3 linked regions of the Homo sapiens genome follow. The protein of the gene in region 2 purifies or fractionates together with the protein of the main gene of each other region. This does not show direct contact. Each region holds a gene or a part of one and is shown on either strand. Other genes may lie near its edges. The genes, in order: GAS6, CDH16 and CNTNAP3.

Region 1 (3,644 bases), on a different chromosome or scaffold from region 2:
AGCCCCCAGGTCAGCTGGGGGTTCTGTGTGCCTACTCCCTGGGAGGTCTGAGCTCCCAGGCCTCACGCCAGGCAGTTCCTGCTCCTTTGCCCTCAGCCCTTCCCACCTTGCGTCCAGGCCTGCTGGCACTCCCTCCCAGTTGATCTGAGTTTTCCTGGAGCCGGCCCCAGGGCCCGCCAGCCTATTCTGTCAGCCCTAGGCCAGCACAGAGGGCTCGGGTGCCCAGGGGCTGCCTCAGCCTGCGCCCCTCAGAGCTCCTCCGGGCTGGACCCGAGACCCCACAGCCGCCCCGATCTCAGCTGCGTTGGGCGCGCAGGGGTGGGGCAGCTGAACATGATTTTCCACTTTGTGTCCCCAATCAGACCTGCCTGACCAGTGCACGCCCAACCCCTGCGATAGGAAGGGGACCCAAGCCTGCCAGGACCTCATGGGCAACTTCTTCTGCCTGTGTAAAGCTGGCTGGGGGGGCCGGCTCTGCGACAAAGGTACGTGAGGCTGAAGACAAAGGCGGGGTCTCCCTCCATCTCCGACCCTGCCCTGATCCCCGCTCCTCACTCCCACTCCGGGGCACGGCCATCCTCAGGCTGCTCTCCGACAGCCCCAAGGAGGCTGCAGCCCTGAGGTATCCTGGAGCCCCAGGAGAATTGGGAGGAGCTGCAGTCTCCTTTCTGGGAGCAGGGCTGGAAGGAAAGGAAACACCAAGTGATGCCTCAGCACCCACTGATTGAAGGGCGGGGGGGGAAATTTCACCTCTGACCGTCCTTGAGTGCAGACCTGTGGTGTCAGTGGCACCCACTGATTGAAAGGCGGGGGGGAAATTTCACCTCTGACCGTCCTTGAGTGCAGACCTGTGGTGTCAGTGGCACCCACTGATTGAAAGGCCGGGGGGAGATTTCACCTCTGACCGTCCTTCAGTGTAGACCTGTGGTGTCAGTGAAGACCCTGGAGGAAGAATAGCTCCAGGGCCTGGTGGAGACCCATAGTGGAGAGCCCAGCAGGCCAGCCTGTCCCCTTTGGCAAATCCTACCCCACAGGTGGCCTGGGAGGGCTTTGCTAAGGAGTGGCCAGCTCTGGCCTGGCCTTGTCTGTCCTCGGCACCCAGAGGTCACTCCTGGCCTGCAGCCTCCTCCTGCAAGCACATGGGCATCCAGGGAGCTGAGCCCTGTGGGCTGTGACTGCCAGCAGCTCCCCAGGCTGAGACCGCAGCTGGGGATCCCCCATGCCCTCCCACCATCTACCTCCACACGCAAGGCCAGGACCAGGGGCCATGAAACGCTAGGGCTGCTGAGTGGGGTGTGAGGTCCAAGCCCTGGGGTCCCTCTCTGCTCCAGGGCTGGGCTGTGCACCTCTAGGATCTCTCTCTGCTCGGGGGCTGGGCTGTGCACTCCCAGGCTCTCTCCCTGCTCCAGGGCTGGGCTGTGCACACCCGCGGTCCCTTCCTCCTGCTCCAGTGCTGGGCTGTGCACCCCCCCGGCTCCTTCCCTGCTCCAGTGCTGGGCTGTGCACCCCCGGGCTCCCTCCCTGCTCCAGGGCTGGGCTGTGCACCCCCGGGGTCCCTTCCTCCTGCTGCGGGGCTGGGCTGTGCACCCCCGGGCTCCCTCCCTGCTCCAGGGCTGGGCTGTGCACCCCCGGGGTCCCTTCCTCCTGCTCCGGGGCTGGGCTGTGCACCCCCGGGCTCCCTCCCTGCTCCAGGGCTGGGCTGTGCACCCCCGGGGTCCCCTCCTCCTGCTCCGGGGCTGGGCTGTGCACCCCTGGGCTCCCTCCCTGCTCCAGGGCTGGGCTGTGCACCCCCGGGGTCCCTTCCTCCTGCTCCGGGGCTAGGCTGTGACCCCTGGTCTCCCTCCCTGCTCCAGGGCTGGGCTGTGCACCTTTGGGATCTCTCTCTGCTCCAGGGCTGGGCTGTGCACCTCTGGGCTCCCTCCCTGCTCCAGGGCTGGGCTGTGCACCTCTGGGATCTCTTCCTACCGTAGCCAGGGGCTGTGCACCCTTGGGCTCCCCTTCAGGCCTGTGCTTGTTCCCAGATGTCAACGAATGCAGCCAGGAGAACGGGGGCTGCCTCCAGATCTGCCACAACAAGCCGGGTAGCTTCCACTGTTCCTGCCACAGCGGCTTCGAGCTCTCCTCTGATGGCAGGACCTGCCAAGGTAAGGCCCTGGGGTGAGGCCTCTCTCCTCTCTCCTCTCCCCACCTTCTATTTTCGGTCATGTCTGCTCTTCTGCAAGCGGCTGCTGCTGGCTGGGTTCCTGTGGTTCTGGATGGGATGGGGCATCCTGCAGAGACTACACAAGCCCAGGCCAGCCGCAGCACAGGGAGCTGCTCGGCACCACACCAGGATGACTCACCCGGCATCTGAGGGCCAGGACTCAGGGGGCCGGCCCAGCCCATGAGGCCACACTGCTGGCTGTAGGGCCTCGTCCATTCCCCAGAGCCTCACAGAGCCTGGAAGTGCTCCAGGCACTTGTGTAGTGAGCTTGTGGGTCAGGGCTCCAGGCTAGGGTCCCCCCGCCGTCCACTCTCCCCAGCATCCCCAGAAGCACCCCGTTGTTGGTCTCCCTCTGTCCACTAAATATAGCCCTGCCCTCCCCACTTCCTTTCATATTTCAGTCTGGGGTTCCCTCAGCCCAGGGCCAGAGCTGGGGAGCCCCAGGACACCCCAGAAAGTCACTGTGAATGTGCGCGCCCCCGACGCTGTTCCAGGTGCTGCTGCTGCCACTGGCCCTTTGCCACTTTGCAGGGGGAGCACCTTCCTCCTCCCTCCCCACGTTGTATCTGGACATGCCCAGGCGTGTCCCTGAGAGTTTCTGGCATAGTTCTTAGCGCTGCTGCTGACTGTCCAGGACACCGAACTGCGTGGACAGGACAGACAGTTGCTCAGGGAGAAACAGCCCCAGGATCTGGAGAGTGAATCTGACCAGACAGGAGGGGCCACACCCCATCCCCCGATTTCAAAAGGCAGCTGCTATTTCTGTCCACTTTGGTGGTTCCCTTCCCTGACCACCCAGGAGTTAGCCCTGTGTGCAGATGACGTGATTCCCATCTTAACACATAAACCCATTTCCCCGCCGAGGACAGAGCCCCTCCCATCACTGCTCTATCCCTGACCTGGAAGACAGCAGCACCCCAGGTTTAAAGAGAGGTGAAGACTAGGCCGATCCTGAGAGATGACGTCTAAAGCATCTCCCGTGGGTCCCTGCACCAGTCGGGCACTCCCGGCAAAGTCTAGGCTCACAGTTACTGCCCACAGTGACAGAGGCATTCCCGTCCTCTCCTCCTCCTCCCCATCTTCCTCTTCCTCCCCACCATTCCCCCTCCTCCTTTCCCCACTCCCCCTCCTCCTCTCCCCACTCCCCCTCCTCCTCCCCCCCACTCCCCCTCCTCCTCCCCATCTTCCTCCTCCTCCTCATCTTCCTCCTCCTCTTTCTTCTCCTCCTCCCCCCACTCCCCCTCTTCCTCCCCATCTTCTTCCTCCCCCTCCTCCTCCTCATTCCCCTCTTCTTCCTCCTCATTCCCCTCTTCTTCCTCCTCATTCCCCCTCCTCTTTTTCCCCCTCCTCCTCCCCCATCCTTATTTCCCCTCTCCTCCTCCTCCCCCACCCCTCCCCACCCCCTCCCTCACCCCTCCCCACCCCCTCCCTCACCCCTCCC
Region 2 (4,426 bases):
ACAGGGGAGCGCTGAGATTCACCCACGTGCTCCCCAGGGCAGAGGTAACTGCTCAGAGCTGTTGCTGCTCTGCCCCTCCTCCCCACATACTTCAAGGAATGCAGAAGGCATGGTATTTTCAGATCAAGTGAGGGTCCCCAGGCCTTCCTGGCTCTGTCACTTATTGACTGTGTGACCCTAGGCAAACCACTCAGCTTCTCTGTGCCCCAGCATGTGCCCAATGCCCCTTCAGAACGCAGTATGTGGCATAATGAAGGTATGTGCTCAGAGCAGTGCTGGGCACAGAGCAGGAGCTTAACACGTGTGAAACCCCCTTCAACCTCCCCACACTACACTGCTCCAGGCTGGGTGCCAGAGTGACCCTGAAGCAGGCACTCAGCTTGTGACAAGGCTGGGGGCAGCTGGGGGTAGCTTCTGGCCTGAGAGAGACTAATCAGATGTACAGTGGGAAGGACTTCGTGGGGACCATGGGAAGCTCCAAGGCTGGAGAGGGACTGGAGACCTTCTTCCCACCCTCTCCCCTCATTCCAGACTCCCAGGCCCCAGAAGCATCTCCTGGCTCTGCTTGGCTGCCCTCATTGCGGGGAGAGCCCCTGTTCAGCCCTGCAACTCCCTCAAGGTCACCTGAGCCAGTTTAATCTTCTTAGGGGCATGAGACTGCCCACTGTCTCAGCCCTGTCACTGTTGAGTGGCCAGTGTAAGGACTTCGGGAGCTCATAGGCTGCTGCACTCCCCCACCACAGGTCCCCCTGGGGGGGGTGGTCTGGAGCCCCAATACCCACTTCCACTCATGTACTGCTCACCCATCCTTTGCAACCTCCAGCTCCTTGTCTTAGTTCCACAAGCCATGCGGAGCTGCCAGGGCAGAATGAGAGCCAGGTCATTCCTGAGTCCCTGAGTTCTGCTCTCAAAGGGCTCCCAATCTAATGGAAGAGGCAGACAATGACAAGCTGGTGTCCTCTGTGTATTAATAGAGATAGCACATGGCATGGTGTGAGGGGGAGGGGCATTCCCAGAGGAGGCTCCTGAACAAGCCTGGGAACATAGGGGAAGTTTCCTGGAAAAAGGAATATTTGAGCTGAGCACTGAAGCATGCATGAGCAGGTGCTTACCACACAGATGAATGAGTGGGAAGGGTGTTCCATGCAAAAGGAACAGAGTGTGAAAAGGTGTGGCTGCAGACACTGGAGCCTGGGAGATAAGTCAGACCAAGTCTGGAGCCACAGAAAAAGTAACGTCCAGAACCAGAGGGCCAAGGAATACCTCCTGGGCTGTGCTGGGGTCGAGGGAGTGCCAGGCCAACCATCTCCCCACCTCCTGGAGCTGGCAGTCACGGATGCTGAGCAGCTCCTGGCTTTCCAAAGTCAATGAGTAACTTGGGGGGCTGGGCGGGGCCAGGCCTGCTGCTGTGGGCCCAGTGGCCTTTTCCACTCCTGAGCAAGCGTGGCTGAACCCTCCTACCTGCTCAAGTGCCCTGCCTTGCCCCACCCAGCCCAGCCTGGCCAGAGCCCCCTGGAGAAGGAGCTCTCTTCTTGCTTGGCAGCTGGACCAAGGGAGCCAGTCTTGGGCGCTGGAGGGTGAGGGGCTGGGAGTGGAGGGGAGGGCATGGCTGAGGCTGAGGTTGGTGGTGGGGAAAGGAGAAACACTGCCCTGTCCTCGCCATCTGGGAAAGAATTCCCAGGGCCTCATCTTAGAGGGGTTGTCGATTTGTCGCTGCTCTGCCTGCCCAGCTCCATGACAAGGGCTGGAAAATGATGAGACAAGGGCCGGGCTCCTGCTCCGGGGGTTCTCCTTGTCTAGAAGGTGGCAGTGGGAGGCAGGACAGTCCCAGAGGCCCTGAGCTAGGAGGACTCCTCCTGTGGTCAAGTCCTCTGTGACCTTGGCCAGACCCCAGCATTCAGGCCTTGCCTGCAACAAGAGGTGACTTCAGGAAGTGACCCTCCAAGTCTTCAGGAACTTTCCAGCTTCAAACTTTTGTGATTTGGGGGATTGCTAGAAAATTACCACTTTGGGATCTGCGGCCTGGGGAGGCTATGGTGAGAAGGAGCTGGAGGTCTGGAGGTGAAATTCTGATAGAGTGCTTGATGGACCAAGAGCCTAGAAGCAGGGTGGCTGGGCCTGGGGGCCTTGGTGGGCCTGGCCGAGGAGCAGGGCACTACCCTGCAGGAGATGGAGAGCCTCAGCTCCTTTGGAGGGGAGGAAGAGAAGACTAGTCTGCAGTACGATCCCACTAGTTGTGTGTGTGGGATGGAAAGCCCCTCCCTACCCACCTGGGCTGGATCCTCACTGCCGTGTCCCTCAGGCCTGTCCTGACCATGGTCCCTGCCTGGCTGTGGCTGCTTTGTGTCTCCGTCCCCCAGGTGAGCTAGGCCCTGCCCCCTCTCCTTCAGGTCTTGGCTTTGGGGGTTGACACCCTTGCCCCCAACTCCACCTGGACCAATTGCACTGACCGTGAGAACGGTGCAAGGCATGGGAGGGGTCAGAGCTGGGACTATAGAGCCACTGTGGGATGAGGAGGTCAAAGACCAGAGCGCGGGTGGATGGACTAAGGTACAGCCAGGCCCTGGGAAGGGGCGGAAATTCCGCTCTTCTGTTGGGTCTCAGTGCCCACGCAGGAAGATAGAGCCTGGTGACAAGGTGAGAATCCTCCCACAGGCTCTCCCCAAGGCCCAGCCTGCAGAGCTGTCTGTGGAAGTTCCAGAAAACTATGGTGGAAATTTCCCTTTATACCTGACCAAGGTGAGCCGGAGAGCTGGGGTTGGGGCCGGGGGGATCCCTCCCCGCAAAGTCCTGCTTCTCCTTCCTCTGGCACCCTTCCTCTTGCTGTTTCTCTTTGAAATCCTGCTTTCCAGAGAGTATGTACACGTTACACAGGTTGAGTGTCCCCTATCTGAAATGCTTGGGACCAGAAGTGTTTCAGATTTTGGATTTTTTTTTTTCTTCAGATTTTGGAATATTTGCATATATATCATGAGATATCTTGGGGAATGGAACCCAAATCTAGATAGGAAATTCATTTATGTTTCATATACATCTTATACACATAGCCTGAAGGTAACGTTATACATTTTTTTTTCTTTTGAGACGAAGTTTCGCTCTTGTCGCCCAGGCTGGAGTGCAGTAGCATGTTCTCAGCTCACTGCAACTTCCACGTCCTGGGTTCAAGAGATTCTCCTGCCTCAGCCTCCTGAGTAGCTGGGACTACAGGCATGCACCACCACTCCTGGCTAATTTTTTTTTTTTTTTTTTGTATTTTTAGTAGAGACAGGGTTTCGCCATGTTGGCCAGGCTGGTCTTGAACACCTCACCTCAGGTGAGCCGCCCGTCTTGGGCTCCCAAAGTGCTGGGATTACCACTTTGGGATTTGCGAGCTGGGGAGGCTATGGCCAGAAGGAGCTGACAGTACAGAGGTGAAATTCCGACAGAATCCTTGAGTGGCCAAGAGCCCAGTGTGAGTCTGCTCCTGGGCGAATATTTTTAATGATTTTGTGCATGAAACAAAGTTCTGACTATGTGTTGACTGTGACCTGTCACATGAGGTCAGATGCGGCATTCTGTACTTGTCACATCATATTGGCGCTCAAAAAGTTTCAGATTTTGAGTATTTCAGATTTCAGATTTTCGGGTTAGAGATGCTCAACCTGCAGTGGGAATGACTAACAGATTTTAATCCTAGTGGAGAGCAGAGCTTTAGATTAAAGAACGAAATCTCGGTGGTGAGGTTTCAAGCTTCAGAAAGAAGGGCAGAGAGTTTTGGGGAGCATCAGGTCCAGGGAAAAGAGTTCTGGCTCTGAGTCTCAGTCCTGATGCTTACTGGCTGTGTGACCTCTGACAGGAGCCAGATGTCTCTGAGACTCAGTTTCCCCACATGTAAAATGAGGCCATCAGGTGGAGGAGGGGCATCTCCCAGGCCTGGCCACCGCTCCCTTCACTTCTGTTCATTTCCATCAGTTGCCGCTGCCCCGTGAGGGGGCTGAAGGCCAGATCGTGCTGTCAGGGGACTCAGGCAAGGCAACTGAGGGCCCATTTGCTATGGATCCAGATTCTGGCTTCCTGCTGGTGACCAGGGCCCTGGACCGAGAGGAGCAGGCAGAGTACCAGCTACAGGTATGGCTGGGCCAGGTGTAGGGGAGAGCAGGCAAGGCAGAGCCAGACGCTGACTCCCCTTCCCTGCCAGGTCACCCTGGAGATGCAGGATGGACATGTCTTGTGGGGTCCACAGCCTGTGCTTGTGCACGTGAAGGATGAGAATGACCAGGTGCCCCATTTCTCTCAAGCCATCTACAGAGCTCGGCTGAGCCGGGGTACCAGGCCTGGTGAGTGACCAGGGCAGCCAATTTACAGTAAGGTCAGGTGGGCCTTGATGGAACAGCAGAGAGCGAAGAGATGGCCAGACAGTTGGCATAGGACAGGGCAGCCATTTCTG
Region 3 (3,644 bases), on a different chromosome or scaffold from region 2:
TATCATTTTATAATAATCTTTAATACACATTCTAACTGTATACATCAATCAGAACATTTCTTCTTGACTGTTTTTGTAATTCTGCCAAATGGGAAACAGTTTTCATGACAAGAAAACATTTGCAGAAGAAAATTTAAAAAAGAAAACATTTGCTGTAACAAACTAAATACCAAAAGCTTACAAGTAATTGGCACTGATCCATAGTACACATGTAATCACTGGACTATTACATATTTTTTATCTTTTTATCAGCTGTATATTTCTTGACCTCATCATTTAGGTGGGTAGCTGCCTGCTACAACAGAGAGGCAGGGCTTCTTGCCACAGAGGAGTGCTTGTTAGTTGACTGAATGAATTCTGGCAACTGATTTTCCCAACAAAATACATTTTTAAATGTTTTCCTTTTATATATTGGAACAACTATTTTCCTGTTTTTATACAGAACACATAGAATTGTAGTAATTCTTAAAATGGAATTCCCATAATTAACATTATATATCCATATGCACAATTTGGAATGAATTGTCTTTTTGTTTTTGTGTGAAACTTACACATTTTAATAACCTCATTCAATGTAATTAGTAAATAGTTTTCTTGAGGATGATATCCAGAACCCAGAGATACCAGCTTAATTGTGGTTCTCCTTATTGGCTATACTCAATAATTCCATCAGTGAACCCATCAGTAATTCAGAATAACATGGAATGTATATGAAAACCTGTGTCTGTTGTCCTCAAATAGTCTTGTCTCTTTGTGTCATAAGGCCCAACTCACTCTTCCTCACTTCAATGACAGTGTCTTTGTAAATAGCCCCATAGAAGTTAGGGTGAGGAGGAGGGATTCTTCTGAACACCAAGGACTGGCAGATAAAAGGTAGCTTAATATTCAGAACGTGTTAGGTCAGGCTTCTTGACACGGATGCCCATTGGCCAAACCCATCTTTGTATCTGTATCTGAGTAACGCATCTCCAACAAAGCCAACTTCAATAACCAGGTCTTTTTTCTTTTTCCTGTTGAGCAGCACTTAAATGTCAGTTTCTCCATGGACAGAAACTTTAGGTAGAGGGCTGTTCCATTTATCTCCTTCCTCTTTTCATTTCTTTTTCATCTTGTCAAAGGAAACTGCACTCTGTGGAGCCTTGTTATCACTCTTCCCTTTGGTGTTTCCTTTTTCATGTATCTTGATGGTATTTTTCATTTTTATGATCTCAGCAGGGTGCTGTTCATAGTAAAACTTAGACTTCAAACCCATCTTTTTTTTTTTTTTTCTCCTTTACCTTCTTGGAAAGTTCATGGGCTTCACAGCTGTTTTTCCCTTTTTCTCATGCTAACCTAAGTGATGTATTCATTGTGTGGTCTGGTGACACACAGTCAGAGATATTTTCAGGTTTTGGTCCTGCAACCCATGAGCCAACTCCTCCAGCACATAACAGGAAAGAAAACATGTTCCCAACAATACAAATAAATATTCCCATGATGTGCTGCTGAGATACACTGACAACTAAACATGAGCTTTCCCTTTAACCCCAACTTGGATATTTCAAACTTTAAACATTGAAAGAAGTTTATTAACTGATTTGGAAGTATTTCCAGTTGATTAGGGAATAGATCATTAGGGATTGCCATTGCAAAATGATTGGTCTCCTGTGGATAACAACACCAAAAACACGTGAGACATATGAATTCTGATTTCCATGTAAAAATAGAAAGTTATTTTATTTCATATAAAAATGAAACAACGATGTCCCATGAGGCATATTTACTTTATAACTTTTTATGCATAATAAAAATTACTATATTAGGCTGGGTCAAGGTGGCTCGTGCCTGTAATCCTAGCATTTTGGGAGGCCGAGGCAAGTGTATCGTCTGAGGTCAGGAGTTTGAGACCAGCCTGGCCAATGTGGCAAAACCCTGTCTGTACTAAAAAAAATTAGCCGGGTGTGGTGGCACACACCTGTAGTCCCAGCTACTCGGAAGGCTGAGGCAGGAGAATGGCTTGAACCCAGGAGGCGGAGGTTGCAGTGAGCCAAGACTGTACCGCTGCACTCCAGCCTGGGCAACAGAGCAAGACTGCATCTCAAAACAAAAACAAAAACAAAAACAAAAAAAGTGCGCCTGTGGTCCTAGCACTTTGGGAGGCCGAGGTGGGCAGATCACGAGGTTGGGAGATCGAGACCATCCTGGCTAACATGGTGAAACCCCGTCTCTACCAAAAATATAAAAAATTAGCCGGGCATGGTGGTGGGAACCTGTAGTCCCAGGTACTCGGGAGGCTGAGGCGGGAGAATGGCGTGAACCCAGGAGGCAGAGCTTCACTGCACTCCAGTCTGGGCGACAGAGTGAGACTCCGTCTCAAAAAAAAAAAAAAAAAAATTGGCCCAGGCCCAGTGGCTCACACCTGTAATCCCAGCACTTTGGGAGGCCGAGGCAGGCAGATCACCTGAGGTCAGGAATTCGAGACTAGCCTGGCCAACATGGCGAAACCCCGTCTCTACTAAAAGTACAAAAATTAGCTGGGCATGGTGGCGGGCGCCTGTAATCCCAGCTACTCAGGAGGCTGAGGCAGGAGAATTGCTTGAACCTGGGAGGCGTAAGCTGCAGTGAGCTGAGATTGCGCCGCTGCACTCCAACCTGGGAGACAAGAGGGAGACTCTGTCTTAAAAATAAATAAATAAATAAAACTAAATTACTATATTACATGGGCAGCTGTTAAAGTAAGAACTGATTCTTAAAATATTAGATGAAATGGAGACTTCACATGAATAATTTTTAAATGCAAAAAATAAAATGTCCTTTTTTCTTTCCTTCCCATTAGGCTTCCTTACCATCATGAGGATCTGTGGTTTGTGTTTCTTGGCTAATTCGGTAACATCCACTCCATTATAATAAAGATTTTCTAAACACCCATGAAAGCTTTTACGTCTGAATGCCCGCGATCTTCCGGGTGTCGGAATTCCCCCAAAGCTGATCTTAGAAAGAAAAATGACATAAATAACATTGTTTAGTGATTTTCTGATGGTACGTGTTTAAAGCATTTATAATTAATAGGTCTAGTACTAACTGTCACAAATCCATTCCCATTATCTTATATTTGCATGCTTGCTTATTCCAAATGAAGTGTTCTATCATAATGACAGCTGTTAATACCTTTATTTCTGGCACCACACAGTTTTGAACAAACTTAAAAGGAAGAAGTCAACACACATTTTCTGCCACATTGAAATTTTCAGCCATGTAGTAAATTTACCCTTTGTGGGTCATATGATCTCTTTTGCAGCACTCAACTCTGACACGAAGTACCAATGTGGCCACGGACAATACATAAAGAAAGAGAACATGTTCCAATAAAACCTTCTCTTTTGAACAAAAACAGGCTTTGTATTTTTTTAATTAAAAAATGTCCAAACTTGGCCTGATGCCCATAGTTTGCCAACCTCTGCATTAGATATTATCTTTTGCTATTACATGGTTAAATTAAAGTAATAAAACTGAATAATCCGGTATAGGACTAGGATCTTCAGTTTAATATTATATGCCAAAGCCACTTACGCCAGTAAATATCACAGTTTTTCTGGTTTGTTATGATCCTTCATACACTTTAAGGTGTCCTGTAAAGGACTGAAAGAATAGATGCTATTTAACAG

The links.
Region 1: the proteins of CDH16 (region 2) and GAS6 purify together in Homo sapiens (affinity purification with mass spectrometry; one large-scale study listed by BioGRID and IntAct). This does not show direct contact.
Region 3: the proteins of CDH16 (region 2) and CNTNAP3 purify together in Homo sapiens (affinity purification with mass spectrometry; one large-scale study listed by BioGRID and IntAct). This does not show direct contact.

The regions. Positions count from the first base shown.
Region 1 is NC_000013.11:113,836,569-113,840,212, reverse strand, and holds part of GAS6 (growth arrest-specific protein 6 precursor), read left to right. Parts: intron 1-362; coding exon 363-485; intron 486-1,965; exon of another isoform or gene 1,966-2,021; coding exon 2,022-2,144; intron 2,145-3,644. UniProt on the Homo sapiens protein: Ligand for tyrosine-protein kinase receptors AXL, TYRO3 and MER whose signaling is implicated in cell growth and survival, cell adhesion and cell migration.
Region 2 is NC_000016.10:66,915,955-66,920,380, reverse strand, and holds the start of CDH16 (cadherin-16 isoform 1 precursor), read left to right. Parts: upstream 1-1,495; 5' UTR 1,496-1,577; intron 1,578-2,302; 5' UTR 2,303-2,315; coding exon 2,316-2,360; intron 2,361-2,655; coding exon 2,656-2,739; intron 2,740-3,951; coding exon 3,952-4,107; intron 4,108-4,177; coding exon 4,178-4,316; intron 4,317-4,426. UniProt on the Homo sapiens protein: Cadherins are calcium-dependent cell adhesion proteins. They preferentially interact with themselves in a homophilic manner in connecting cells; cadherins may thus contribute to the sorting of heterogeneous cell types.
Region 3 is NC_000009.12:39,173,124-39,176,767, forward strand, and holds part of CNTNAP3 (contactin-associated protein-like 3 isoform 1 precursor), read right to left. Parts: intron 2,970-3,644; coding exon 2,826-2,969; intron 1-2,825.